Homo sapiens: one gene and its partners. The protein of the gene in region 3 purifies or fractionates together with the protein of the main gene of each other region. This does not show direct contact. Each region holds a gene or a part of one and is shown on either strand. Other genes may lie near its edges.

Region 1 (3,500 bases), on a different chromosome or scaffold from region 3:
TTGGCGTTTTTTGAGAGGGAAAAATACTCCAAAGGTTATAAAGCAGTGTTTTTGTTTTTTTGGTTTCCCTGAGGCATAGTCTCGCTCTGTTGCCCAGGCTGGAGTGCAGTGGCATGATAATAGCTCACTGCAACCTCCTCCTCCTGGGTTCAAGTGATTCTTCTGCCGCAGCCTCCCAAGTAGCTGGGACGGGCATGCACCGCCATGCCCGGCTGATTTTTGTTTTTGTTTTTTGTTTTTTTTTGAGATGGAGTTTTACCCTTGTTGCCCAGGCTGGAGTGCAGTGGTGCAATCTTGGCTCACTGCAGCCTCCGCCTCCTGGGTTCAAGCGATTCTCCTGTCTCAGCCTCCTGAGTAGCTGGGATTGCAGGCGTCTGCCACTACGCCCGGCTAATTTTTAGTATTTTTAGTAGAGACGGTTTCACTATGTTGGCCAGGCTGGTCTCAAACTCCTGGCCCCAGGTGATCTGCCTGCCTTGGCCTCCCAAAGTGCTGGGATTACAGGCGTGAGCCACCGCGCCTGGCCTGATTTTTGTAAAGATGGGGTTTCACCATGTTGATGAGTCTGGTCTCAAACTCCTGACCTCAGGTGATGTGCCTGGCCTATAAAGCAGTTTTATCTTCCCATAACATTTTATATGCTTTTTAGGATTCATAAATACTTGCTAACTAGTTCCTAAAAGGGCTGTTTCATGGGATGTCATTATTAGGCTTGGGAATGTATTGATCTTACTGTTGCACCATTTTTTTGTTGTTGTTTATTAAGAATTTTATACAGAAAGTGTTGAATAAAATCTGAAAAACTTTAAAAGATTGTTCCGTTTTACATAGGATAGACAGCTTGATAACTGTACCCGTGTCACCCTGAGTCTGATTTTTATTTTAGAACTAGAAAAATATTATTTTAAAATCATAAAAATGATTATTGGCTCTGTGAAGTTTTGTTTTTAACTGGCACTGTATGGGATCCTTTATCTTTTTTCAGCTGGAGTCTTTTGTGCAATTGTTTCTCACCCTGCTGATTCTGTGGTATCTGTGTTGAATAAAGAAAAAGGTAGCAGTGCTTCTCTGGTCCTCAAGAGACTTGGATTTAAAGGTAGGATGATGTTTTTTTCTTGAAAGAAAGAACAACAGTTTTGGATATGTTGCATTTTTTTCATTTGCTTTTCCTGTTTGAACCAGGTGTATGGAAGGGACTGTTTGCCCGTATCATCATGATTGGTACCCTGACTGCACTACAGTGGTTTATCTATGACTCCGTGAAGGTCTACTTCAGACTTCCTCGCCCTCCTCCACCCGAGATGCCAGAGTCTCTGAAGAAGAAGCTTGGGTTAACTCAGTAGTTAGATCAAAGCAAATGTGGACTGAATCTGCTTGTTGATCAGTGTTGAAGAAAGTGCAAAAGGAACTTTTATATATTTGACAGTGTAGGAAATTGTCTATTCCTGATATAATTACTGTAGTACTCTTGCTTAAGGCAAGAGTTTCAGATTTACTGTTGAAATAAACCCAACTCTTCATGATTTGCCTGTGACTTATTTTTAAAACTTTTTTAAAAAAGATTTAGCTTTAAAATAGTTGGAAAGAATGAAGTATATAAGTTAAGGAAAAAATACAAAACTGACCATGACCATTGTTGGTTGAATATTCCAGTTGCTATTCAGAAATTGTCATATGTCTCAAGTTTTATCACACAAAGTTCCTGTATTTCTAGGGAAGCAGACTTTAAATTTCTAAAAACTTGATTTAATTATAGTTAAATATGTGTAGTCATTTGTGGTTATTTTGGCAAGTAAATGTCAGTGTATACTTACATTTTTGCAGCATGTACTACACCTTTTTTATGTTGGTGAGTTTGCTAATCCTTATTTGTAAGACAAGGTAAACCAAATTAGGCTGATTCTTAGAATGACAGTAAAGGACCAAAGTGATTGACAGCTGAAAACAATTTTCAGGTACACTAATTCTCTTTACACAGATCTGACTTTTTTTTTTTTTGAGACGGAGTTTCACTCTTGTTGCCCAGACGAGTGTAGTGTCGCGATCTCGCCTCACGGCAACCTCTGCCTCCCAGGTTCAAGCGATTGTTCTGCCTCAGCCTCCCAAGTAGCTGGGATTTCAGGCATGTGCCACCACGCCCAGCTAATTTTGTATTTTTAGTAGAGACGGGGTTTCCCTGTGTTGGTCAGGCTGGTCTCGAACTTCCAACCTCAGGTGATCCGCCCGCCTCAGCCTCCCAAACTGCTGGGATTATAGGCATGAGCCACCGTGCCCGGCTCTGACTTTTTACAGAAAATTGAACTATTTTCAGTCTGGTATTTTAAGAAAGGTACTGCTTGACAGCTGAACTATATGAATGCCACTGGGGAAAAAGCATTCCATCATACTTAGATACGAGATTGGATTGTAGGTTTAAGCCCATTTTTAAAGAGCTCCTAGAAAGTGAATTAGTTTTTGTGTTTAGATTCCCCTTAAGTTTGATTAGGAAGTGTATAAAAGTTCAATCTTTTGTAATGACAGCCCACCACTGGAAAAAAAACGAAAAACCTAGTGTAATATATAACATGCTGTTTTTCAAACACTAGATTTTACCTAGAGTCCTTATGTGTAATACGTGGGTTGGTTAACAGTCCCTACGTAAAGCGTACAGATGGCCTGGAGAGAAAAACTTTTTCAGAGATTGGAGAGAAATGTTACTACAAACTCATGGTAAGGTCAGTGAACTCAATTTAGAAGCCAGTGCAGCTAGTTGCATGTTAACTTCTTTATATCATCATTGCCTGAACTTGTTAAAGGTTCCAACATTTTACCTGTGCTGCAGGAAAAAAGGAAAAGTTGTAGGTACAAATTTGGACCAAACTTTAAAAAGGTAAAGTAGGATGTCTTCTGAACCCAACCAAGTGGTGGCTGTGGTGCTTAGCAGTATCAACTGTATATTATTTCTTGCTATGTTAGCAAAGCATCCAAAGATCAATGGTGTATGATAAGCTTTTCTGTGGGTGAAGAACTCGGGAGTATCAGACTCTTCTGGTTCTGAGTCTCATGAAGCTTTTCACTTCTGAGCTGAAAGGATGCTCTTTGTGCTTTTCACTATTAGTGGTATAGTCTTTCCCGAAAATCTCTAGCATGGTGGCTTCAGGGCAGCTGGACTTAGGTGGTATTTTGGGGCTCCAGGAGAGCTTGGCAGAGTTGGCTTTTTAGGACTTATCCTTCAATGTCACATAACATCACTTTTACCATGCTCTTGGTTACAACAGTGATGTCTCAGAAACCAAGTCCCAGATTGAGGAAAAAAGGAACATAGTCTCTACCTCTTCCTGAGAGGAAAGTCAGTCAACGTGTAAGAGGAGCAGTAGAAACGCATTAGTCCAGCCAACGTGAAAGTGGACCGTAGATCTAAAACATTTTGGGTATGCAGTTCAGCCAGCCCTTACTGAGGCAGTTCTGCCAATCAGGATTCAAGTTTTATTTCCTAAGAGTTATAATAGGTTTTATTTGTG
Region 2 (2,653 bases), on a different chromosome or scaffold from region 3:
TGGCCGTGGGCCGAGGGGCAGCTGGAGCCTCCACTGAGGGCTGGGCACCCCCCTGGGCCGAGAGCTGGCCCTGGGCAGCCAGGATCTTCCTCTGGGCGGCTGGGGACAAAGAGGCTGCTGTCTCCTCTTCTGTGCGAACTGGGCAGGGGACACGCTCTGGCCCTCCCTGCGTCCCCACCCTCCCCTCGCCCTCACCTCTTCCCGCACCTCTGCCCTCTCCTCCCCCTCCCCCCGCCCTCACCAATGCGCCCTGCATCCTGCAGCTGGATCTTCAGCATCTCCATGGGCGTGGTCACGATCACCTGGCAGGTGCCAGCCCCACAGCCCGCCAGCATCTCTTTAAGCAGGGTCAGCTTCTGCCTGTGGTAGGGGCGGGGCCGCAGTAAGTGGGAAGAGACAGGTCTACCTGCCACCCTCGGGGCTGCCCACCATGCCTGGGCGCAGAGGATGGTGGGAGCCGTGGAGGCAGATGCAGGCCTGTGGGGGTACAGCCCCCAGCCTCCGCCACTGCAGCAGCAGGCAGGGAGGAGACCGATGGACAGACGGCCCCACAGGCAGGGGCCTGGGGAGGGCAGTGGGGCTGTCTGCGACAAAGGAAAATGGGAAATTGGGGGTCAAGTGCCCCAAAAAGGGGCTGCCCTTGCAGTCCCCCTCCAGTGATGGGGGAGCTGGTCAGTGCCCTCAGGCCAAGGGCTACCAAGCCAGAGCCCCACTGATTTGACATCTGCTTTGCTCCCCTGGTCAGGGGAAAGGAGGGAGGGTGCCCCACGAGGTCAAAGAAGCCCCAAGCAAGGGGCTGAAGACAGGCAGAGCCCCCAGGTGGGACCCAGCTGGCAGGGTGGACCCATCCTTTATCTGAAGCCAAAGACCCCTCGAGTGTCTGCCAGGCAGAACCCTCACCCGTCCTTAGAGAGCTGATGTCGGAAGAAGTCGTTGGCTGCCAGCTTGATGGCCTTCTCGGGGGTGACGAGGGTCAAGTTCACAGCAGCTCCTGTGGGGCAGGGGGTCAGCTGGGGGGACATGCTCGGTGGCCTGAGTGGGGAGGCGCTTGGCCAGGACTTGCCTCCTGGCTGGCAAAACCCTGTCCCAGTCACTCCTGGCCACCATCTGTTCTCTCACCCACATTTGGGCCTGGTGTGTGCCAGGTGGGGCGGGGCCAGGCAGGGATGGGGCAGCACCTCAGGCTCAGGCTCTCCCATGCCCACTGCAGCTCCATCTGTCTCTGATTCTGGGCAGCATCTTGCTGCTCAGGGCATGAGGACTGCCCCGGAGCCCCTGAGGCCTCCCTAGGATACCTCTCCCTCCCTGGAGGACAGATGGTGCTTGTGCTGGCAGGGGGCTGGGGCCAGAGGTCACAGGAGTGTGTGGTCTGGACTGGGCCAGAGCTCGGGGGAGGCTGTGGAGAGCCCCCATCTCAGTGCCGAAGGCTCAGGGCTGGAGAGCTTCTGCCAAATCTAGGCTCTGGATTGTGTCCTAAGCTGCTTTGCGGTAATGCCCCTTACTCCCTCCCATCCCCAGCCACAAACGGGGTCCAGCCTGGCCCAGAAGGCAGAGGCAGCTGTGGCCACCAGAGAAGAGACAGATGTACCATGGCATCCCACGCACCAGGCACTAAGTGGGGGTGGGGAGCTGCCACGGGAGAGGCTGAGAACTACCACTCACCAGAGATCCAGTCCCCCCTGCACAGGCACAGCCCCCACAAACACGTCCACGCTCACACACCAGGCCCAGGCTGGCCGCCCTGCCCTGCCTCCCCCACCGCTCCCTGCCACGACTCGCGGGCGCTACCCAGGCCTGCCCATATCGAGCCCAGCCGAGCCAAACCTCACCCCGGTACATGCCGAAGTAGCCCTCGGAGCGGACGGTCTTGATGAGGCAGTCGGACCTGTGGCCAAGGGGACAGGGTGAGCCAGGGCCAGCTGGGGCCAGCCGGAGGCCAGGGTCCCTGGACTGTCTAGGGCTGATAGAAGAGGCCAAGTCCTCAGCCCAGCCCCGACCCCAGTCCTGACCCACGTGGGATCTCCCCTAGGCCCGCCTGCCTCCCGTTTCCCTTCTGTCAAACAGGGTGGGGGGCACAGGAGCAGAGCCCCCACCTCTCCTGCTGCCACATGCTGGGCCCACTCCCCGCGACCGCCCGGCACACTCACATGCTCGTGTACACGCGCTGGCCGTTCTGCTGGTTCTGCAGCCTGGTCTTGGCCAGGTCGATGGGAAACACGCAGGTGACACCGATCAGCCCGGCGATGCCGCCATTGATGAGCTTGGCTGGCAGGCTGTGTGGACAGGGGTGTCAGGACCGGCTTCCTTGACCATGGGTCAGGGTGGGGGTGAGGCACGCAGCCAGGACTGGAGTCTGACCTGATCTGCTTATCAGCCATTTAACTCGATTGCACCCAGGTAGGAGCCGCAGAGGTGGACGCCAGGCCAGGCGGGGTGGAGGTGGAGGTGGAGGAGGCCTTGAGGGAGGGTGGGACCCAGGGGGGTTGGGTGGTGCTCCACCTTCAGGGGAATTTCCAGGCGTCAGCAACCGCCACTTCTGTCCTAGAAGGATGAGGGAATGGGAATGAGTGAGGGTGGGGCCACCCGAAGAGTAATCCTCCCCCAGCCTCCCTCTCTCACGCAGCCCCTCACCCACCACCCCAGACTGAAGCCG
Region 3 (2,648 bases):
AACATGATTGTTTACAGATTGTCCCAAACAATGAATGCATGAATGAATGAATACGTAAGGCCTCAAAGATGGCAGAGGCCAGGTACAGTGGCTCACACCTGTAATCTCAGCACTTTGGGAGGCCAAGGTGGGCGGATCACCTGAGGTCATGAGTTTGAGACCAGCCTGGCCAACATGGCAAAATGTCGTCTGTACTAAAAATATAAAAATTAGCCAGACATGGTAGTGACCACCTGTAATCCCAGCTACTCGGGAGGCTGAGGCAGGAGAATTGCTTGAACCGGGAAGTGGAGGTTGCAGTGAGCCAAGATCACGCCATTGCACTCCAGCCTAGGTGACAGAGTGAGACTCTGTCAAAACAAACAAACAAACAAACAAACAAACAAAAAAGGGAGAAATCTGCTGACATACCTTCTTTATGCTGTCTATATATAGGAAAGTGGGCATGTATTACTTTCATAATAAAAGTTTCTTTTTAGAGACAAAAACGATATAAGAAGTCCATGGATAAAATCGGCATTTATTCAGAAGGCATGATGCCAGGAAGAAACTCCCCAAGTGGGAGACAATGGCTGGCCCCCCTGCAAGGGAAACAAGGCTTCAGCCCTTCCCTACTCCCAGACCTGCCGGGAAGGCTGGGAGCACAGTTCATGGAGGGTCTCTGGGGTGGGCCTGGGTGTCTGACCTGTCCCTCTGCCCACAGGTGAATGTGACCTGCGTCCTGAGGATCCCGAGTATCAGGAGAGCTGGCAGAGGAAGTCATGCAGAGGCAAAGCCAGGAGCCCCGACAGGGAGATCCCCAGTGTGTCAGAGATGCAGGTGGCCGCCATTGCAAACTCCCGGTGCTCATCACTGGTCTGGGAGGGCAGAGAGCAGGGGTGAGGCTTCAGTCCCAGACATCCCTGCCCTGGGTGTCCCTGGACAGGCCACCCCCAGCCCTTGCCCGGCCAATGCTGACCTCCAGGGCGATGTTGTGGAAGGTGTTCACGTAGGCTGCGCCTCCCAGGAGCCCCTCATACAGAATGATCAGGAAGACGAGGTAGATGCTTGGCAGAAAGCCGAACCACACGTCTGCCAGCAGGAACACCAGGTTGAGGCACTGTGAACAGGGGGAGAGGCTAAGCCTGGGACCAGGGCGGGGCAGGGAAGGAGAGGTGGCCTCCCCTCCAGGGGTCCCTGGTTTTAGGAGTTACTGGTGAAGGAGAGGGCTGCCAGGTCTAGATAAAATCTCAACACCAGCCCGGTGTGGTGGCTCACACCTGTAATCCCAGCACTTTGGGAGGCTGAGGTGGGCAGATCACCTGAGGTCAGGATTTCGAGACCAGCCTGGCCTGGTCTCTACTAAACATGGTAAAACCCCATCTCAACTAAAAATACAAAAATTATCTGGGTGTAGTGGTTCTGTAGTCCCAGCTACTTGGAAGGCTGAGGCAGGAGAATCACTTGAACCTGGGAGGCAGAGGCTGCAGTGAGCCAAGATCGCAGCACTGCACTCCAGCCTGGGCAACAGAGAGAGACTCCATCCCAAAAAAAAAAAAAAAAAATTCTCAACCTCAGCCTGGTGCAGTGGCTCATGCAGGTAATACCAGCACATTGGGAGACCAAGGTGGGATGATCACTTGAGGCCAGGAGTTCGAGACCAGCCTGGGCAACATAACAAAACTCCGTCTCTACAAAAAATTTAAAAATTAGTTGAGCATGGTGGCACGCACCTGCAGTCCCAGCTACTCGGGAGTCTGAGACAGGAGGATTGCTTGAACCTAGGAGGTGGAGGCTGCAGTAAGCTATGATTGTGCCACTGCACTCCAGCCTGGGTGACAGAGCAAGATCCTGTCTCATAAAAAAAAAAAAAAAAAAAAAAAAAAAAATGGAGGCTTCTTAAAGGAAGTGGGACCATCGAAACCAGGATTTCTCAATTGCAGCACTCTTGGCGTTTGGTGCTGGTTGTTCTGCATGGTGAGGGCTGTCCTGTATATGGCAGCGCATTTAGCAGGATCCCTGGCCTCTGCCCGCTAGATGCCCATAGCATCCCTCAGTTGTGACAACCAAAGCATGCCTGCAGACGTTGCCAAACATCCGCTGGGCAGCAAAATTGCCCCTATTGGAAAAACCGTTGGTTCACTATGGTAAAACAAGGTGGGAGTAGCCGGGCATCCTATTCAGCTGGGCTCGAACTCCTGGTCTCAAGCAGTCGCTGCCCCCCTGCCTCAGCCTCCCAAAGTGCTGGGATTATAGGCAGGAGCCACCGCACCTGGCCAGGAAGCCTCTTCGATCCCCACCCCAGGGTGTAGGTCCCACCTCTGTGCCCCAGTCTCTCAAGGAGGTGCCATCCTCCCAGCACTGACCACGCCACATTGCCTCTTGTGCAGTGTGTAGGCCTCCTCGTGGCGGTTCATACTTTTCGTATATGTAAGAATTGCCTGGGGATCTAGGTACAAATGCCCCAAGCGGGGCTTACCCTAGAGGTCCTAATTCATTAAATCTGAGGTAGACTTAAAGATGAGCATTAAAAAGGACACACCTCTAGCCAGGTGTGGTGGCTCACACCTGTAATCCCAGCACTTTGGAAGGCCAAGGCGGGTGGATCACCTGAGGTCAGGAGTTCAAGACCAGCCTGGCCAACATGGCGAAACCCCATCTCTACTAAA
Region 4 (3,500 bases), on a different chromosome or scaffold from region 3:
TTGTTGTAATACATTTCAGAAAGACCATGGCAATGAAGTATGGTGAATGGAAATTCAAGTTGGCAGTTATTTCTGTATTTATTTCACAGTAATTTGCATGCAAGTTGGACCTGGATATTGGAGGGGCTTCAATGTGAGACTGAGGCATTTGGGCTTTTTGTATAGGCAGGGGGGCCTTTTGAATATATTTTAAATTAAGGGAACATGAACAGAGCTGTGCCCAGAGAGACTGAGTAGGCAGCAGGTGTGAGGTAAGAAAGTGGAAGGTGGTTGAGGTAGAAAGGTGAATTAAGAGACAAAAGTGCTCTGGACAAGAGGTATTGAGGACTAAAAAATATAGCAGTAGTAGAGATGGATGAGTGGGTAGCTGTTAAAAATGCTTGTTTCAAATGCAGGTTTCTGGCCTCTACTGTGGACTGACTGAATCAGAATCTCCTAGTTATAGTGACTTGACAGCTGCACTTTTAACAAGCTCCCTTCAGTGATTCTTTTGTCTGATATGCTGTATTAGATGATACGAAGATAGAATTGACTAGACTGGCAACTGATCATATACTCAGGGGATCTCTTTGTTACTGAGAGAATGGCGAAGCTGTTTTAAAGGGTTGGGAACTAAGGAAGGGGGAAAAGATTTGGAGGTATAGAGAATGCATTCCATCTGACACATATCAGATTGGATTTGGCAGCAGAACAGCTGTGCAGTGGGATAGGATTGGTTGGGAATATAAAATAGTTACACAGGGAAAGAGCCAGAGCAGTAAATAGTGTTTTTCAAAAATTAAGTTTATGAGTATGTTTTCCCTGTGAGAAGATACTGTGCCGCCGTATTTGCTGATTTAAAAGTCTACTCTGTGATTGGAAAGAAATATTTGGATATGGGGAACTATACCCAGAGAGAAACCAGGGAATCTACTCAATCCAAGCTTTCATGGAGACCTGCATGCCCTTGACACAAGTTCTAAAATTGTAGCAACCCACATGATACTGTCATCTGATTGAACCCAGTTAAAACTCTCTGAGGGAGGAGTTAAGTCATACATAAACACTGTGTTGAGGGCATAAAATATTGAATGAACGGGTAAGTACCATTGTCTAGATTCTTGATAGCTGAAATTGCTGTGCTATGACTAGGGCTGTGTCTGTGGAAATACCCATATGCCTCCTCTACCACTCATTAGGTTTGTTACTCTGTCTTTTGGAGAGGTGGTTTTGTTACTCTGCATTAGTTTTGGTTATTAGGGAGCACCAGGAACAAATGTTCCATGCACCACATTCAGAAGGCAACCTGTCTCCGATTAAAATAGTAGAGATTTTGTAGACCCCAAGATCCTCATAAATCAGATTCTGTGCCTTTGGTCTTCCTAATTTTAAGTCAGTTTTTCAGAGGATCACAGCCTCTGTCAGTATTTGACCACAAGTACGCAGATCCTCCAGGTGGCATGTTTGAAAGAAAGAGAGAAAGTGTTTCCAGTCTACTTGAGAGAATACACAATAAATGACTCCTGAACTTCATAATCATATTAGTTAACTTGCTGCTCTTCATACCTGGGACCTCAACATGCATACCCGTTACCATGTTCAGGGTCTTCTTAGTCTGAAATAATGCATTCACTTGTTGCATTCTAACTGCAATCCCAGATCTTTGTAACTTTCACTAAAAGTTACTCTTAACTAATCTTCATTAGTTCTTTGACTTCACCAGAACCTCTAGTTGAAAAACTTCTCTACTTCTTACTTACATCTGTCAGTTTCAGCTTAGATGCTGCAGCCCCAATTTCAGCTGCTCTTTAGTTAGCATCTTCAGCTTCCTTTGTCTTCCTTCAGTTTCTGGCAGAATCTCAAATCCAGGTAGGATCAGCTGCCTGTTTTGTTCATGCCTGTGCCAGGTTTACTGAGTTGCTAGAGAAAACCAGTCAACTGTGTCACTATGAAAATTCATGACAGCTGTCAACATTGACTCCAGTTCTACTGTTTACTCACACTTTCTCCCATCTTCCACATTAACTATTTCAGACATTCTTTCTGTTCCTCAAACCTCTGAACCTTTTACCATTCTACTCCCTGTCAATAATTGACCCTACCTCCGGCAACTCTCTTCACCTCCAGCCCTCAAATCTGTCAGCTCCCCTACCTTTGCTCCTTCTCTCCTGTTACAATGGAAGAGGCATCCTGTCCATCTGAAGTGAATCATTTTACCTCACTCACATGTCCTATTTTCTTAGAGACCAAAGAAGATAGAGAGCAAAGGCAGGGAGATTTATTAGGGAAAAGCTGTTTTTGTCATCAGTGAATTGATTTAAAGAAAGAACAAAAAATCAGAGATAGCTTTAAGCCTAGGGTATTAGTGAAAATAGTTGTTGATAGCTAAAAGGAAGTTTAAGAGGGATGTGGTAATAAAACTCATTTCAATAGCTATTGGATTTCTTCATAAGTTACTGGAGCATCCATGTCCATGTAGGCTTTGCATGTTTGTTAATCAACTTCATGTGACTATTGGGGCACATACAGACTGATGGGGGCTTTTTTCTCAATAGCATTTATTTCTTATTCCCCCTTTTTTATAGCAATATTTTCAACAAGAACTGGCAATAAACCAATATGGTAGAATTTCCACCAATTATTTCTGTGGGTTAAAGAAACTATAAAGTACAATTTATTAAACTGGAAAAATAATCATCATCTCTGGAGCCTCTGAAAGCTTGGCATTAACGTTATGTTTTACAAAAGAATCATTTTAGTGTCTGCATCTATTTTTATTAAGCCTTTCGAAGAATTTCTAATGTGGCAAATGAGCTGACAGCCTAGAAGGAGTATTGATGTGGAGTATAAAAATGGCCCATATGAAGGATAGAGTAGGGCATATATATAAATAGGAAATTGGACAAGACAATTTTTTTTCCAATTTTAGCTTTTAGTTATTTTTAAATAAATGGTATTATTTAAGTTAATATAGGTAAAGCTGGCATATAAATGTTGGTTCTCTCCTCCTGTGGGCTAAAATTCTAAAACTTAACCCAAATGAAATAGAATTACTACTTATGAGTTGTGTTTTTACATTTTAGGAACCCTGATTGCTGTCCTTCAACGTGTTCATTATGAAGTTATTAGTAATACTTTTGTTTTCTGGACTTATAACTGGTTTTAGAAGTGACTCTTCCTCTAGTTTGCCACCTAAGTTACTACTAGTATCCTTTGATGGCTTCAGAGCTGATTATCTGAAGAACTATGAATTTCCTCATCTCCAGAATTTTATCAAAGAAGGTGTTTTGGTAGAGCATGTTAAAAATGTTTTTATCACAAAAACATTTCCAAACCACTACAGTATTGTGACAGGCTTGTATGAAGAAAGCCATGGCATTGTGGCTAATTCCATGTATGATGCAGTCACAAAGAAACACTTTTCTGACTCTAATGACAAGGATCCTTTTTGGTGGAATGAGGCAGTACCTATTTGGGTGACCAATCAGCTTCAGGAAAACAGATCAAGTGCTGCTGCTATG
Region 5 (3,500 bases), on a different chromosome or scaffold from region 3:
AAAAGAATGAGCATGAGATCAAGCATGACTATGACAGTCCCCTTCTGTGTGTCAGAAGCCACTGGAGTAACACTGATGAAGTTGGTTTCCTTCCTTTGTCCTCTCCTCCTGCCCCTGCAGAGTTCCTTCACCCCAGCCCAGTTCATTCTTGCTGAATGAACGAAGGTGGAGGAGGCGGTGCAGGGGTCAGGAGAAGGGCTGGCAAGTCTTAGAGAATCAGGCGAGGCTGGAGAGAGAGTTGGGGCCTGGTCACTTCTCCCAGCCATCGCCCATTCCAGGACAAGAGAGGTACAGTCGCCTACCTTCAGGAAGTCTTTCTTCTCCAGAGTGTCCATGATCAGTGGTGGGATGGCTGTGGGGAGAGCAGGGCCAAGAAGGAGAACATTAGTAGTGGAGTTAAAGTCAGGAACTGTGAAGGGTGACCCCCCTCAAAGCTCCTCCCTCTCTCCCCAGAGTCCTCCAAAGTCCCTGAGAACTGCACCTGCTTCTCTCAGAGTCTCCTATGCCCCACCCAGCCACTCCCGCCTTACCCATGGCAGGAATCGCCATGCAGATTCTTGAAATCACCACCTGGAAGATTCCCTGCTTGGCTGCAGTCACCGAGTAGCCAAGCCTCTGACCTGCCTCATCAGCCACCGGGATGCCCACCTGCAGCTCTCTGCAAGGGAGGGGGGTTGGGGTCAGATCACAGGCCCCGGATCCCACCTGCAATGCCCGAATGAGCAGCGGCTCCTCAGGGTCCCCTCACACACCCCAGGCTCAAAGGCTGGTTCTCCCACCTGAGGATCCCAGGGTCAGACTGAGCCAGGGCCCAGCAGCTCATGTCTGGGGAGGGAGAGGGATGTCCCCATTCTGAGGTGGTCTGCGTGGATGGACAGTGTGCTACATTCTGGGCATGCACATGCCAGGAGCCGGGGTCACTCACCTCTGCCTCATCAGGGGGATGTTGATGCAGTTGGCAGCTGCCACTGCTGCAAAGGGCACAAATCTGCCGACCAAGGGGGGCAGGTGCTGGGGAGGAAGGGTGTTGTTCAGTGGCCCTAAGGGCCATGGGGTGGTGAGGGACTCTGGGGAGATATAGGGGGCATATAGGTCAGAACTGGAGGTGTGATGAGGAAGAAGGAGGCAGATAGAGGATGAATGGGGTGGTCAGGGGAGTGAGGGGCCTTTACCTTGGTGAGGGATTTGAGTCCCAGGGCCGTGGCCACAGCTCCAGTGGTGGCACTCACATAGGCTGTCCCCAGCTGCCTGTGGGTGGAAAAGCCAGGTCACGGGGAGAGGTGACAAGTCCAGCAGGTGGCCCTTTCCTTTAGGGATATGCCAAGTCCTCAATACATGAGGCATAAAAGGGGAAGCTCCTTGCAGAAGAAGCCTTCCCTCCATCTCCGGCGTAAACTTGTCTAGAAGCCCCAGTAGCACCCTGTGAAGAGGGGTGGGTCCCCCACAGCATACATAAGAGGACCTCATGCCTTCAGTTAGGCAGGGTAATTCGGGGTGGGGCAGGCTGAGGAGAGGGCGCTGAGCACTGGCTGCATGGTCCACAGGGAACCGGAGAGAAAGGAGAGGGCACTGCAGGCTGGGAGGAGAGGGTCAGATGGGACAGTGCAGCTGCTGCTGGGGGCTGGCTCTCACCTCACAGTGATGGGAGTGTCACCACTGCGGTTGGAGTAGTTAACAATGGCATTGAAGGACTGATTCACCCACTGCCAGAACACCACGGTTGGGGTCTTCCTGAGGGAACAAAGACACTCACTTCTGCCCCGTCTACAGTGGCCCTCATCTTTAGACCCCTGTAATGAAACCAAAGGTTATTCCCCAAGCCTAAGAAGGGACCCAGTTAATGGCCCTAGAACCTGTTCTGGTAACCCCTATGTACCCCCACCCCCATTTATACAAACACACCTACTGTCTCTGGGGTGAGAGACCTCCTGAGGCTGAATTCTGAGGAATGGAAGCGATTCTGACACAATCTTTCACTCACCCAGTTGGCCCAGACAAGAAGCGCACCTAGTCAAGCTATGCTCTAGCTTAGGGCACTGAAGAAGGGGACGTGGGACAAGACCTGCCTGTAGAATGTGAGCATGCAGCCAGTGATGGTCATGTTCATGGGCACCTGGGCTGACATGCGGCCAATCAGGACCACCTTCTCCCCTGTGTCCGGATGGAAGGCGGAGTCATACACATACTTGGCCCTCCACAGCTGGTCCTCGGTGATCCCTGGGGTCACCACGCCGGCCCTGCAGAAGTTGGCAAGGAGCAGACAGGCTATGCCAGGGGGCAGATCTGCCCTCACAGGCCCCACCTGCCCAGCTCAGGGTAACTCTGGACAGAGAACCAGGAACTTCAGCCCCCAGTCTCAGCATAAGGAAGCTCCTTATCTTTGGGAGAGGGCCAAAGTTTCCCAGAAGTGGAGGCTCCTATTTCTATTTCCCTTATAGCCACACAAAGAGGGGTACCCTTCTGTTTCTGCCAAAATGCTGGGTCAGGGATGATGGTGGTTTCCAGTGGGTCAAAAATGGCTGCAAGCATTGCAAGAGTTTTTCCTCCCAAAGATAAGGGGATTTCCCTCCTATCTTCCTGGGACTCCACTTTGAGCACCTCTATCCTTGCAGAGGGTGACCCCGCAATGGGATAGATCCCTGTAGAGGTTTGTGATGCATAGAGCAGCCCCTCCCATAAATATCAATGCCATCTTCTCAACCCAAATGCCCTAAAATCCTTTGGGTTAAAGCTCTGTGATGCCAACAGACGGGGCTAGAGAGTGAGGGGATTGAGGGACAGGGTCACTGTCAAGCTTGAGGAGGCAGGTACAAAACATATTATATTAATCACAGAAAATGAGATCCTGGCACACAGGGTCAGATTGAGGGGTGGTCACCTGTAGTTCTGCACGATGTTCCGAGAAGCTTCCAGCTGTGCCCCGGACAGCAGCAGATTTCGAGGATCAGTAACAGTGAAAAAGTGCCGGGCTCTGCCCAGGAAAGTACTTTGGTCCCAGCGAGGTTCCTGGATGTTGATGTCTAAAGGCAATTCACCCATTTTCTGCAGGACAGAGATAAGGGTCAGAGCGGGAGTCCAAGGGTCCAAGGGCTCCAGCTAGGGGAAATCTTTGGTGCCCCTGCCCTGGCCCCTGAGCTTATCATCAGTCCCTTCAAGAGCTCAAGGTGACTAGATGTAGGGAAAAGAAAGAGAGATCAGACTGTTACTGTGTCTATGTAGAAAGGAAAGACATAAGAGACTCCATTTTGAAAAAGACCTGTACTTTAAACAATTGCTTTGCTGAGATGTTGTTAATTTGTAGCTTTGCCCCAGCCACTTTGCCCCAGCACTTTGACCCAATCTGGAGCTCACAAAAACATGTGTTGTATAAAATCAAGGTTTAAGGGATCTAGGGATGTGCAGGACGTGCCTTGTTAACAAAATGTTTACAAGCAGTATACTTGGTAAAAGTCATTGCCATTCTCTAGTCTCAATAAACCAGGGGCACAATTAACTGCGGA
Region 6 (3,500 bases), on a different chromosome or scaffold from region 3:
AGGTGTATTGTTTTAAAATGTAATGCAAAAATTTCAATGCAGAGGTCAATACTATTTTAATGTTCATACTTTTAAAAGGATGGCTTTCTTTATTCATGTATTACTTCTATAATTAAGATACAAACAAAATAAGGTGATAGTAGGCACTATTAATATAAGAACATAATTTTAAAAGTTTTTCTCTAGTGTAAGAAACATCATCTCAATAGTGACAGACTGGACTAGATTAGATTTCATAAGATTCTTTCAAAGGTGGTAACTATGAAAGTAATTTTTAAAATGTCAAATGATAAATCACAAGGAATAAGACAAATTCCTAGGTCTACTATATTTCAAGTTCTCTACTATAAATGACAAAGGTTAGATTAGGCAACTGCTAAGATTCATTTAGCTCTACATGTCAATACCTACCTTCAACAGATTTAAACAGAATAAAACTTGAGTTACTATCTTTATTACGTTCAGTCATCAGCCTCCCAAAACAAATATAATTTTTCCTTACCTAAAAAGCATAAAAACTGTCGCAGGCATCAGGAATATTTCATTGCAAGCAATGAATTTCAGAATATTTTGTTGATTAGCACTTAATTTGTCCAAGACAGATCTCAGCAGAGGTAAACTATTTGAGCCCCTTGCCTAAAACAAAAGAAAACCAACATTAGAAATAAGTGAAGCATTTCTGATAACAATATTTTCTTTCTGTAGGTAAACAGCCTATCCAACAGGCAATACAACCAAATATACTACTTTGGAAATGATGGTACGAAGTTCACAAACTATTTAAGGACAAATATAGTATATTTTCCTGCTTTTTTACATTTTTAGACTTAATATAAAAAACAACTTTAGTAAAAGTACTTTTCATTCTTAGCTGCTTTTTCTCAAGAATGATTATTTAACAAAAAATAGTGGTTATTTCTCTCTAACCACAACAAAATCTGACTATCCAGTAATACAGTTAAAATATCTGTGACTCCTTTCTTAGCTAATGTTAGAATTATACAGCAGTGTAATTACTGCTGTGACCAAAGAATTATAGGGATAAAGAAAAAGGCCAATACAAAGCATAAATCTGGCTATTTTAATTCAAATTTCTGTAAATGTGCTTGGTAAATGTGCCTGGATATTTTAATTCAAATTTCAGTATATGCTGTAAATGGCCTGGTGCCAAGTTAGGTTTAATGCTCCAACCTAGCAATAAGAAAGAATTTCAGGAAAGCAGCAGTTCTGAAAATTAGTGTACAAGAGATTCATTCAGTACACTCAACTTATCAGGTATGCCAGAATTAAACACTGACAGAACAAGAGATCTGACAACTCAACAAACTTTAGAGACACAGGTTTCAAAAAAACTGATCTATTTCAAACTTGAAAAATTCCCCTGGAGACTGGGGGGTGATTTTAAGTGCAATCCTTTATCTATAAAATGTTCTAGTTTGTGAAACTTCAACAATAAACACTTTTAAACTTAAAACTTTCAAATCACTAAATAATTCATAACAAGTTTGTAAGGTATAGAGGGACTTTTTGTGACAAATACCAAAATGTCTTAGAACTCAAATTCATGTCAATGATCTGTAATTCAGAAGTCAGACAAAGAGCAGTTTTACTTACGTCAAGGACCTTTTTCGTATATGTGGCAGCATGAAGCAAAGAGAATAACAAGACTGGGAAGATACTCACTAAAGAAAACAATTAAGGAAAACATTTAAAAGTCATCAAGTATTCTGCAAAACAGACTATGTATTATGTCCAAATATACAGATGTGAAACATCTGCTAAAATGAGTTCAGTGGAATGGCTTGTTTTACTGATACACTTTAAGCCAAATCAAATTTTGTTCACTATAAAGAAGAAAGTAAACTATTTCATTTTCTAAAATTCACAGTTCTTTTTTTTTTTTGAGACAAAGTCTCACTCTTCTCCCCCAGGCTGGAGTGCAATGGCGTAATCTTGGCTCACTGCAACCTCCACCTCCTGGGTTCAAGTGATTCTCCTGCCTCAGCCTCCCGAGTAGCTGGGATTATAGGCGCCTGCCACCACGCCCAGCTAATTTTTGTATTTTTAGTAGAGATGGGTTTTCACCATGTTGGCCAGGCTGGTCTCGAACTCCTTACCACAGGTGATATGCCCACCTCGGCCTCCCAAAGTGCTGGGATTACAGGTGTGAGTCACTGCGCCCGGCCAATTCACAGTTCTTTTCATGACAAAAATTAATAGTGAAAAAAAGGTTTTTCCTTCATTTCTACTGGGTAACAATGTAAACACTTGCTAAATTAAACTGAAATCTAGGCCACCCCAAAGGGTTGTAAGTATAGCTTCTAACCCTACAACGGCTTTCTTGGTCACTCTAACTTAGCCTTCAAACACAGTAGTTTTACAGTGCTTTCACAATCTCAAACGCTGAGGAAAGAGTCTAAGGTAACAGTTTAAAGAGTAATTCCCAAATTTTTAGTCCCAAAGACTAAAGATCTTTTATTACTTCTTTCCTACAAGGACTCCATTATTTTGAGATACTATACCTAACAAGTTGTCACAGTTATGCTCTCAATTTGTAAAAATTAACAAGGCAGTATGTATTTTGCTTTGTATATAGTCAATTGAAACTCTCATCAGCTTAATTACAGACATAAGGAAAGAATCCTTTTGAGTCCAACTGTTTGGCTTTATGCCATGGATAAACATACATTTTTCATTCAACTTTTTGAAAAATGGAAATTGTTCAAAAGACCCCATTCTCCACCCCAATTTCTGCCAGGTTGATTAAAAAAAAAAAATTGTCAAGTAGTTCCACAAAATGATATAGACTGTTAGTCAATCACAAATGGCAAAAATACTTGTCCTAAAAATATTACCAGTTCCTAAGAAATGAACCATTGTATTTTTCTATACTAACTGAAGGCCTAATATGACAGGAAATAGTGATTGCTGTAACATAATCTGAGTATCAAATTCATTATAACCATAACTCATTTAGGAATTCAAGGGTCCCAGTTTCCAATTGACAAGCAAGACACCAACCTATATCCAAGTATTAGAAGAACCCTAACTCCCTAATATAGTTCTCCAAATTAATATCCTGACCAACTCATTCCCACCTCTAACAAGAATTAAGAAAAATGTCCATTTCCTAAGTAGAGATCATATATGTATATAAAAAGTTTTAAATTTTTTAATGAATCATAGACTACTTTGAAACTGATGGAAGCTACAACCCTCTCCAAAAGTCACTATAAAACTCTGTCGATCCTTAAAGAATTCAATTTAAACTTTGACACATATCCAGACTGAATTCAATAAAAGGGGCAGTGTCAGGTAGTGAAAATAGAGCCCTGAATTGGGAGTCAAGATACCTGAGTTCCACTCCTGACTCTGTCACTAACCTAATTTTCCTAGGTCAAGTTTCATGCTCTGGCAAATGAGTATGCAGAGATCAAAGCTAGAAACTGCCAATGAGTCTTTTATGTCTAACATTCTATAGTTCACAAATCCTTGGTAAG
Region 7 (3,500 bases), on a different chromosome or scaffold from region 3:
CAGCTACTTGGGAGGCTGAGGCAGGAGAATGGCGTGAACTCGGGAGGCGGAGCTTGCAGTGAGCCGAGATTGCGCCACTACACTCTAGCCGGGGCGACAGAGCGAGACTCCATCTCAAAAACAAACAAACAAACAAACAAAGAAACGTAACTAAAAGGTTATGCCAGTTTATTTTTTAAAATCCTATTTCCTATGGTCTTCAAAAACATGATTTAATTGCTACATAATTTTGCTACATAATTTTCCATTAAGAAGAAGTTATCTTCTCACTGCATCATTACCAGTGTGCCACCATACTGTACAAGAAATATAAATACAAATTCTCCACAAAGCAATTAGGCAGACAAAGATCTATTCAGTACAAGGCAATTTATTCAGCATTCTCTTAACCAAAGATCTTTATTAAGCAGCGTTTCTGTTGTTTCTACCAGTCAACCTCAAAATTAGCAAGAAGATAATTCTGAAAGGCAATTCTGAATTAAGATTCTAACAAAATTAAACACAACATATGAATAAATAAAACAGAAGTCTCAAATTATAGCAAATAAGAAAATACAGTATATTATAAAAAATGATTCTTAATATGTACCATACATTATTAAAAGTTGAATCAATTTATTTTATTTTATTTTTTGCAGCAGGGTCTCACTCTGCAGCCCAGGCTGGAGTGAAGTGCCTCGATCACAGCTCACCGCAAGCAACCTCTGCCTCCTGGGCTCATGCAATTTTCCCACCTCAGCCTCCCAAGTAACTGGGACTACAGGTGCATGCCACCATGGCTGGCTAATTTTTTGTATTTTTTGTAGAGACGGGGTTTCACCATGTTGCCCAGGCTAGTCTCAAACTCCTATACTCAAGAAATCCACCCACCTTGGCCTTCGAAAGCACTGAGATTACAGGCATGAGGCACCACACCCAGCCGTGAATCAGTTTATACCTTAATAAGTCAAAATACTTATTCAATTATAATACTAAATAAGAGTTGCTTTACCCTTCCAATCTCATGACCATCACAAGCATCTCGACAGACCACTTCCATGAGGGCGGCGCCATAACTTTCAATAATGGCTATGTTTTCTCGCTGTAATTTGCTAAATACATCTTCAGGGGCTGTCAGCCTTTCCCACATGGTTTTCTTGGCTAAAAGGATTAAAACAGAAAAAAACACTCCAGTAAAAAGCAGTGTAATAACTGAGTAATTATACCTCACATGCTAGGTATGAGCTAAGGAAGAAAAAAAAAAAACGCAACAAAAAAATCCTTCCATCACTGCTTGTACACAAAGGCCCACTGACCGGTGGGTCCAAGCAGGTTAACTCTAATAACACAATGCACCTATTTCATGCATGTTTCATAACACTAAGATAATAATTGTACCTGGAAAAGGATAAATCATTCTGAAAGAGATCAAAATGAATTACAAGACTCCATGAGAACCAACGTCCTGTATTTATCCTGCTCATCAGTCTTTTTTTTTTTCCTTCTTTTTTTTTTTGAGACAGAGCCTGGCTCTGTCTCCAGGCTGGAGTGCAGTGGCATGATCTTGGCTCACTGCAGCCTCCACCTCCCAGGTTCAAGCGATTCTCCTGCCTCAGCCTCCCCAGTAGCTGGGACTACAGGTGCATGCCACCATGCCCAGCTAATTTTTGTATTTTTAGTACAGATGGGGTTTCATCATGTTGGCCAGGATGGTCTTGATCTCCTGACCTCGTGATCTGCCTGCCTTGGCCTCCCAAAGTGCTGGGATTACAGGTGTGAGCCACCGTGCCCAGCCGCTAATCAATCTTTTATCTTTTATTGAGATCTTTTAAAATTGCCAGGCGTGGTGGCTCACACCTGTAATCCTAGCACTTTGGGAGGCCGAGGCGGTGGATCACTTGAGGACAGGAGTTCAAAACCAGCCTGGCCAACATGGTGAAACCCCGTCTCTACTAAAAATACAAAAAATTAGTGGGGCGTGGTGGTGCACACCTATAATCCCAGTTACTGGGGAGGCTGAGGCAGGAGAATCACTTGAACCCAGGAGGTGGAGGTTGCAGTGAGCTGAGATCGCACCGCTGTACTCCAGCTTGGGCTACAGAGTGAAGCTCTGTCTCAAAAAACAAAAGAAAAGAAAAGAAAATTTAGCTAGAAAGGATCAGGTACAATGTAGACAAAAATTTGCCTCCAAAAAAATCAGATATTTTTATTCTTTTTTTTAGTTGAAATACTTATTAAAAATAAAAGCACACCTATTATAAAAATAAAAGCACAACCATTATACAATGATTAGGAACAGTATGATCATACATTTTATGTAAGACCCACAAACATACTCTTATGTGAGACTCTTTAAAAATTTCACAAGTACATTAAATAAAGCAATAACTTGTATTGGAAACTAATCTCATTTTTTCCAACTGCTACATAGCAGCAGTTTTTAAATTGGCATCTTGATGACTTCTTATAAAAAGCCTATTGTAGAGCCCCACCTAGTGGTTAAGTGGTGACTTGGCCAATTCAACTAAATGGAATGTTAAGAAAAACACACACACAAAAGAAAAATGTGGGAGGTGCTGAGTGGAGAAATCCCATTACTATCTCTTTTCTTAAAAGAAGCTCATGTTTGCTTAAAAAACTTCTCTAAACTATTCTGTTATTTTTCCTCATCTTACAAATATTCTCATGCATTATTTATGTGGGTGCTACATGCCTATAAATCTACCATTTGGCTATTACTACCTTATAGGGTACTATGTATGGCATAAAATACAACCACCATAAGGATAATGAGATCAAGTCAACCTTACGTACACAGTGGTTTTTAACAGTGTATACAAAATAACACTCACAAAGGTGAAGAGCCCAAAGAAAATCCATTATCAGAAGGTGCTCTGACAACTTCTTAACAAATGGCAGAATAACTCTGAATAACTTGATTGAACATCAAATGTCTATAAAGTATATAAAGCATTATATACTGATGTGTTGAACACTTAATAACATTTTCATGTCTTAAGATTAGTTTCAATTAAAAATGCTAACTTTTTAGAAAGCAGCATTTAGCAATATTTTAAATGTGCCTAACTTTTGACCAAGAAATTCCACTTCTTGGAATTTATCCAAACAAAACCTCACTAGTACAAAAAGATACATGTATACTATTGATGAGTTTATACTGGAGAAGGTCATTCATTTGAATCTTTTTAAAATAAAAGTACATACTTTTACACATGGAAATTCCACCATTAAGCAGTATCCTTTTTGAGAAATATAGGCATATAAAAAAAGTTGATGTAGCATTTTTGTAATAAAAATTTAGAAACAATTGAAATGCCTGTGAATAAGGAAAATGGCAGATAAGTGTTTCATCCATATCATGGAATAACAAAGACTTTTGTGTTTCTTTTTGAGACAGAGTTTCACTCTTGTTGCCCAGGCTGGAGGGCAGTGGCGCAATCTGGGAAACCTCTGCCTCCTGGGTTCAAGCGATTCTCCTGCTTCAGCCTCCTGAGTAGCTG

Evidence for each region.
Region 1: the proteins of CLN3 (region 3) and SLC25A3 purify together in Homo sapiens (affinity purification with mass spectrometry, with the first as the bait; one large-scale study listed by BioGRID). This does not show direct contact.
Region 2: the proteins of CLN3 (region 3) and SLC25A22 purify together in Homo sapiens (affinity purification with mass spectrometry; 2 studies listed by BioGRID and IntAct, with this or other methods). This does not show direct contact.
Region 4: the proteins of CLN3 (region 3) and ENPP4 fractionate together in Homo sapiens (co-fractionation; one large-scale study listed by BioGRID). This does not show direct contact.
Region 5: the proteins of CLN3 (region 3) and SFXN3 purify together in Homo sapiens (affinity purification with mass spectrometry, with the first as the bait; one large-scale study listed by BioGRID). This does not show direct contact.
Region 6: the proteins of CLN3 (region 3) and TMEM33 purify together in Homo sapiens (affinity purification with mass spectrometry, with the first as the bait; one large-scale study listed by BioGRID). This does not show direct contact.
Region 7: the proteins of CLN3 (region 3) and NUP205 purify together in Homo sapiens (affinity purification with mass spectrometry; 2 studies listed by BioGRID and IntAct, with this or other methods). This does not show direct contact.

Annotation. Positions count from the first base shown.
Region 1 is NC_000012.12:98,600,186-98,603,685, forward strand, and holds part of SLC25A3 (solute carrier family 25 member 3 isoform b precursor), read left to right. Parts: intron 1-985; coding exon 986-1,096; intron 1,097-1,182; coding exon 1,183-1,343; 3' UTR 1,344-3,500. UniProt on the Homo sapiens protein: Inorganic ion transporter that transports phosphate or copper ions across the mitochondrial inner membrane into the matrix compartment. Mediates proton-coupled symport of phosphate ions necessary for mitochondrial oxidative phosphorylation of ADP to ATP.
Region 2 is NC_000011.10:792,629-795,281, forward strand, and holds part of SLC25A22 (mitochondrial glutamate carrier 1), read right to left. Parts: exon of another isoform or gene 2,636-2,653; intron 2,542-2,635; 5' UTR 2,379-2,541; coding exon 2,359-2,378; intron 2,274-2,358; coding exon 2,148-2,273; intron 1,961-2,147; coding exon of another isoform or gene 1,886-1,960; coding exon 1,830-1,885; exon of another isoform or gene 1,825-1,829; intron 992-1,824; coding exon 901-991; intron 361-900; coding exon 242-360; intron 139-241; coding exon of another isoform or gene 100-138; coding exon 1-99. UniProt on the Homo sapiens protein: Mitochondrial glutamate/H(+) symporter. Responsible for the transport of glutamate from the cytosol into the mitochondrial matrix with the concomitant import of a proton. Plays a role in the control of glucose-stimulated insulin secretion.
Region 3 is NC_000016.10:28,476,779-28,479,426, forward strand, and holds the end of CLN3 (battenin), read right to left. Parts: intron 1,100-2,648; coding exon 959-1,099; intron 858-958; coding exon 738-857; 3' UTR 501-737; downstream 1-500.
Region 4 is NC_000006.12:46,136,489-46,139,988, forward strand, and holds part of ENPP4 (bis(5'-adenosyl)-triphosphatase ENPP4 precursor), read left to right. Parts: intron 1-3,062; 5' UTR 3,063-3,095; coding exon 3,096-3,500. UniProt on the Homo sapiens protein: Hydrolyzes extracellular Ap3A into AMP and ADP, and Ap4A into AMP and ATP. Ap3A and Ap4A are diadenosine polyphosphates thought to induce proliferation of vascular smooth muscle cells.
Region 5 is NC_000010.11:101,034,234-101,037,733, reverse strand, and holds part of SFXN3 (sideroflexin-3), read right to left. Parts: intron 3,043-3,500; coding exon of another isoform or gene 3,040-3,042; coding exon 2,879-3,039; intron 2,238-2,878; coding exon 2,067-2,237; intron 1,791-2,066; coding exon of another isoform or gene 1,732-1,790; coding exon 1,633-1,731; intron 1,249-1,632; coding exon 1,173-1,248; intron 1,068-1,172; exon of another isoform or gene 1,012-1,067; coding exon 926-1,011; intron 659-925; coding exon 531-658; intron 353-530; coding exon 303-352; coding exon of another isoform or gene 1-302. UniProt on the Homo sapiens protein: Mitochondrial serine transporter that mediates transport of serine into mitochondria, an important step of the one-carbon metabolism pathway.
Region 6 is NC_000004.12:41,941,929-41,945,428, reverse strand, and holds part of TMEM33 (transmembrane protein 33), read right to left. Parts: intron 1,683-3,500; coding exon 1,615-1,682; intron 637-1,614; coding exon 503-636; intron 1-502. UniProt on the Homo sapiens protein: Acts as a regulator of the tubular endoplasmic reticulum (ER) network by modulating intracellular calcium homeostasis. Mechanistically, stimulates PKD2 calcium-dependent activity. Suppresses the RTN3/4-induced formation of the ER tubules.
Region 7 is NC_000007.14:135,620,417-135,623,916, reverse strand, and holds part of NUP205 (nuclear pore complex protein Nup205), read right to left. Parts: intron 1,141-3,500; coding exon 992-1,140; intron 1-991. UniProt on the Homo sapiens protein: Plays a role in the nuclear pore complex (NPC) assembly and/or maintenance. May anchor NUP62 and other nucleoporins, but not NUP153 and TPR, to the NPC.